Regions from separate parts of the Homo sapiens genome. Here region 2 is linked to region 1. The links come from fine-mapping of genetic effects on gene expression. A gene starts in region 1. The other region holds a variant in brackets. All regions are shown on one strand. Distances are from middle to middle. Region 1 holds the start of CLTCL1 (clathrin heavy chain like 1). Region 2 overlaps CLTCL1 (clathrin heavy chain like 1).

What was found.
Region 2: its variant is fine-mapped to the expression of CLTCL1 in whole blood (TOPMed, PIP 0.92).

The regions. Positions count from the first base shown.
Region 1 is chr22:19,289,986-19,292,891 of GRCh38, forward strand. CLTCL1 (clathrin heavy chain like 1) reads right to left here and starts at 1,734. Exons shown (of 33, transcript NM_007098.4): 1 at 1,615-1,734. The coding sequence starts at 1,656. It overlaps LOC105372859 (a long non-coding RNA gene), which reads left to right and starts at 1,962. Exons shown (of 6, transcript XR_938002.3): 1 at 1,962-2,345. RefSeq lists an enhancer at 923-1,436 and silencers at 1,547-1,731, 1,613-1,852.
Region 2 is chr22:19,181,980-19,184,885 of GRCh38, forward strand. It overlaps CLTCL1 (clathrin heavy chain like 1), which reads right to left. Exons shown (of 33, transcript NM_007098.4): 30 at 1,411-1,632. Among named protein-coding and RNA genes, the nearest start is that of SLC25A1, 4.7 kb to the left of the region's middle. The variant AAGCAGGTCAT/A (reference allele first, on the strand shown) is at 1,507.

The DNA of each region.
Region 1 (2,906 bases):
GCACAGCAGCCTCAAAGACCCAGTCAGTGTTAGAGACCACAAACCAGACTTGCATTCACGTGGCTGCCCACCACAAGCCACAAGCATTTTCCAGATAATGGAACATATCAACTCTGATGGACATTACAAATCCTGATGGACATTAGAAACTCTGATGGACACCTAAAATATCTTGTTGCTTTCTTGCCCTTTGAAAAGAACATATTTAGATAGTGGTTAAGCACAGGCATTGGAATCAGACCTGGGTTAGAACTCAAGCTTTGTCACTTACTAGCCATGTAACTTTTGCTGAAGGAATTAGAATATTAACCTCAGTGACCCATGGTAGAAAACAGGATATCACTATCTGCCTCAGTTATCATGAGGATTAAATTAAACCAGATTTATAAAATACAGTAGTCTAGTGAGTGGCAAGAGAAACGGCTCAGTAAATGATAACTACATCATCATCATTATTATGAGCAGCAGCAGTATTTTGCTACCTCAACATGACTGGTGCTGGCTTAGCTTAGTGGCAGAATGAAGCCCGGACAGATGTCAGGGCACTCCCACCTCCATACAACTTCCACTGTGTCACTAACCAAGTGACCCTGGCAGGATCCCCTGGATATCAAGTTTCCAGTCTGCAGAATGAGGGGACTGGACTGCACTACACAGTTCCCAAGGCTTTTCCCGTCTGCATCTAGGGCTAACAGTGCTCTGCACTGTGAAAATAGGAACTTTCAAGCAAGCACGTTCCTCGATGTACTACTTTGTGGTCAAAAAGACTTGAGTCTGAATCCTGTTCTTATTGAATGAAGATGAGTTCTTTAACACTTTTGAGACTCGGTTTCCTCATCTAGAAAAGAGTAAGCGAATCGCAACGAATGGTAGTGTGATGATTTAACACAGAGCACTCAGGGAGGAGCCGCTGGCTATCCCTCCTCTGCCGCACCTCCCAGGGTAAACGTGGGGACCAGCACCGCTCCCGGGCAGACCCGCGAGCGGCCCGCACGACGCCCGACCTGAGCCTTTGCTCAAAGCAGGGGGCCAGTCCTTATGTTTCTGAACACAAACAAATGGAGAACAAACTGGGACCTTATTAAAAAGGCAGGCTTTGGGGGTGTTACTGCATTGAAAAGCCCTATTTAGGCTTGGCCCTGAGAAATTTTTCTCTTGGGTCACGCATGTTCACGGTCCTCCCAGGCGAAGCCGCCCTGGGGACGAAAACCGATCACAGAGGCAAACTCAGGGGCGAATAAGGACCGCAGGACGCCAAGGAGGGGCGTGGAGCTGTGGGATCCGCGCGGCCCTTGGGTTGCCCTGCCTGCAGCGGGAATTTGTGTGCCTCCTCGCGGGCACTGAGCGGGGCGTCCCAGGGGGCGTTGGCTTCCACCCCCACCATTCCCCAGCCGGCCCCGCCGGTAACGGGCTTCGGCGACGGCACCCAAGCGGGTCCTCAGGAGCGGCCGCCGCGCCCGGGACGCCGCAGCCCCAGCCCAGGTGGGAGGTCGGAAATCGGCGCGGCCAGCTGGGCAGCGGCTCAGCGGGGCTGGGGGCGCGGGGTCAAGCCTGGCAGTCCGGCCCGGCGGAGGCGCGGCTGACAGGGCAGCCCCCCAGCCCGCCGGGCCTCACCTGGAAGTGCTCCTGAAAGCGAACAGGGAGGATCTGCGCCATGGCTGGTGCGGGACCTCGGCGGCGGCGGCGGCAGCGGCAGGAATGAACGCCGACCCCTCGCGCGGGCTGACCGGTGGCGACGGCGCAGGCGCAGTGCCCCGAGCTCCCGGTCCTGGCCCCCGCCCTCCTCCCTGACCGCGCCCCGGCCCGCACCCCCTTTCCCCGCCCCTTCCCCCGCCCCTGCCCCGCCCCTGCCCCGCCTCTGCCCCGCCCCTGCCCCCGCCCCTGCCCCCGCCCCTGCCCCCGCCTCTGCCCCGTCCCGCCTGCGCGGATCCCTCCGCCCGCTCCGAGGGTCCGCGGAAAGTAGTCCCGCGCGCCCTCTGCCCTGACGCGGTGTGTGCCAGCTACCCGAGTGAAAGGTTTTCGGGGGATTAATCCTGATGGGGTCTGCGGCGGCCCTTGCCCAGCGCCTTCCACATGTGGAGCGGGCCAGTGGTGCTAGTTCTGCCGCCAACTCTGGACGGTTGAGTTCAGGGCCACTTTTTACTCAGGCACGGATGTGACAGAAAGATGGAAAAGGGTCTTGGAAGAACCACATGTGCCGTATAACGAACGACCTTTTGGTCTGAGGAGGACCGTGTATATGACGGTGGTCCCATAACATGATAACGGAGCTGGAAACTTCCTGTCCTCTGGTGAGGGCTTAGCTAAGGACATTTCCTCTCCTGTATTTGGAGATACACGTACAGGTATGTCATTACCGTGCCAGGGGAATAACGCACCTCACACGCGGTGCGGGTTTGCGGCCTAGCAGCAGCGGACCGCATCAGCTGCCTAGTTGTGTAGTGGCTGTGCCATCTGAGTTTGTGTAAGTTACCTTGTGATGATCCCACAACCGAGACGCATGTCTCAGAATGCATGGATGCATGGGACGCGTGACTGTACGTGTTACAGACGTGTTTCGGCGTGAGGCTCGGCCCCTGCTCCTTTAGGAAACACCTTTCCTGGCTCATGCGGTTTCTAGAGAACACTGTGTCGGAATATCAATGTAGAGAGTCAGCGAAGGTCATCTAGCAGCAGATGACCAGCCCCAGGCCAGTGAGGATCACCCAGAGTGCCCGTGGCTGCACGACAGTAGTAGCAGGTGGAAGCTGGAGCCCACACCTGGTTTGCCCAGCAGCCAGTTGTTTTTCCGAGGCACCGTTGGCTGATGTTTTGCATACAGATGATTCAGCTGCATAAAAGATGTCTGTCAGGAAAGGGAAGCCCTTGGCATTCAGCACAGGCACTCCCTACGGGGTAATCGATAG
Region 2 (2,906 bases), 110 kb before region 1:
AGAAAGGGAATGTGCGCCTCAAAGTCCTGGGGGATCCCCACAAGCACTTTGACCCCCACAGCAATGACACTCCCTAGGGCCTGGTGAGCCTGAGTTCCTCTGACACTAACCCACGGGCCTCTACTGCCAGGAAGAGATTCAAGCACTTTCTTTCCTTGTGCTGGTTCTCAGAACACAGACTACTTTCAGGAAAGACACCCGAGGGATGGGAAAACCTGCTCATCATGGTGACAGCAGCTTCCACAGGCACGCACCAGACACCGCACACCACACACTGCATACCACAAACCACATACCACACGTGCCGCCTGTAGGGAGTTGCCATCCACTGTGGTGGGGGAACCAGGGCCCTTGTCAATCCAACCAGTCCATGTCCCCTGGCAGCCCACGAATCTCAGGCCACGTAGCCAGGGCTGTCCCTTCCTCCCCAACCCTTGAGAGTCATCAGGGAGTCTCACTCAGGCATGCTATGCAGATGGGATGGGGTCACACTGTCCTACAGGAGGGCAACGGCCTTGAATGGACTCTGGGATGGCCTTTATCAGGGGCTGGGCAGCCCCCTGGAGGCTCTGCAGGCGGCAGGCAGCCCTCCAGGCTAAAGCTGGCAGCATGAGCCCGCCTTCCTGTTTCCTTCCTACCTCCCACTCACCTGGGAGGCCCCTCCCTTCCCTCGCTCCACTGAGTGATGCTTCAGCATGAGTGCCTTCCGAGGCTCTCCATCTGGCTTGAAGGAGGTTAGATAGGCAAGTAGATGCTACTGGAAGTAGCTTTTCCAGTGTTAGAAACAACAAACTGTACCAGATGACACTGCTGACACAGGTCTCTGGACAGTGGCTAAAGCTAGATCCCAGCAGGGACTCCTAGGACTTCAACACCCAGGGAGAGTTTTACAATCAAGTACTGTCACTTCGATGAGGCAGAGAGTCATCCTCCCTATAGCTGTTAGAAGGATTCAGTGGATCTGTGAATACTCCTACTATGTGTTCAGCAAAAGGCAGCTACCACCAACCGTATGCTAACAGCTGCACCCCCAGACGCCACTGGGAGCTCCTCAGGGAGCTGGGATTGCCAGCCACCTCACTGTCACCTTGTTGAAGTCCAGGGCTGGGGATGAGCACGCCTGTTGTGCTCCTAGCAGTGTGCACATTGGGACAGCTGCCCAGCCAGAGTCTACAGGAGGGCTGCTGCCAGTGGGCACTCCCCATGATGATTTTCTGGAGGGGCTTAACGTTGGGCAGAAAACCACTTCAGCATGAAGGAAAGCAGCCACTCCTGAAGGCAGCCAGGGCTGGCTGGGGAATCTGGGTTGGCCTCAAAGGGGCCCACCCTTAAGACCTGCGGCCAGAGTCACTGCCAGGGTTGGGTCATGCCACACAGGGGCCGGGGAGCTGCAGCCGGCCCGGCACCTACCTTGCTCAGGTACTCCCTCATCACCTGGATGAAGTAGGGCATGGCCAAGTCCACGAGGTTGTGCCTCCAGGCCAGCTCAAGCACCATGTCTGGGCG[AAGCAGGTCAT/A]AGCAGGTGAAGAGACAAGCTGCGAAGCACTCCCTCTTGCCTTCCTCCAGGAACCACTGCAGCAACTTCTGGGCCAGCTCAGCATCCCGCGACTCTGCAGCATGCTGCATGGCATCCTGCAGCCAAGGCAAATGCTTGCTTGGGCATCCTGCAGGCAGAGGCTTTGTGCCTGCAGCAGCTGGGCCGGAGGGCAGGGAGTGGCACTAGACTCCACCAAGGACTTCCTGCGCTGTGGAGCAAGCCTGGACCCATGGCTGGGCCATTCCCTATGCCCTGCTGCCCACTGGTGAAACGGAGATGCCACCTCCGGAGGCTCTGGAGGGGACAGGTGGCTCACGGAGGCGCAGGTGCCCTGGGAGACAGGAACTCTAGCCCCGAGGGCAGAGGGCGTGCACAGGCTGCTCTGAGGAAGGCACTGATGGGAGTTTGGGGGTTGTGGGGCTGCTGCAGAGGTGCTGCACTCAGGTCCATGGAGCGTGTGACACCAGGGGAGCAGTTAGGAGGGGTACGGCTACTGCTCTAGAAACAGCAATGTGTTTTTCTTTCAAGTGGCTCAAAAACCCCTAACTGCTATTTTCATCCTTGCAAATGTATTTGTCTAAGACAATATCATTGACAAAATAACACCTGCACCTGACCAGTCCTGAAGAAGCCTGCACTTTCTGTGGCCATTCTCTATTTTCTAGCTCCACAGCAGGCACTGGATCACCTGATTCCTTCTATGGCAGGGGCTATTAGTACCCCATTCAGAGACCAGGAACCTGAGACCCAGATGTAGTCACTTGCCCAGGGCCACTCCACCTGGAGTTGGCCATGATCCACTGACTGTGACCTGTGCTCTCCAGGGATACCCTGTGGCGGTCCCAGCTCTGCATGCCTGCCATCGCCTGCAGCACACACCTCTGAGTTCCGTTTGGGAGACCCCTGAGGACGCCCAGTGCCCACATCTGCATGGACCCGATGTGCTGAGCTGGCTCCGGAAAGAAGTCTCCCCCGCTGGCATGCTGCTCATCGATCGCTGCCTCCTGACCCACACTGTTCCTACAAAGGCACCAGGATTCTGACCCTCAGGTGAGAGCTCCAGGTGCCTTTGGGTCTCCGCTTTGAGGACCTGTGACGCCCGCTCATCTGTCTCCCTGCCGTGCCCTCCACCGGCCCAGCCTACCCTTGCTGACTTGTCTTCCACATGTGCCTAAAGTGGGCCCTGCTCTGTTCCTCCTCTGTGGGCCTTGGGGACTGTCTCACTGCCTTCCCAGAGGACTTCCAGTAGAAGCAGCCCCCAGGAAGCTCCCAGTCAGTGTCCCGCTCCTGCGGCCTGGAGCCCAGCTCGAGTCAGGCTCTCCCACACCCTCCTCTCTCATCACCTCCCCGGCCCATGCCACTCTCAGGG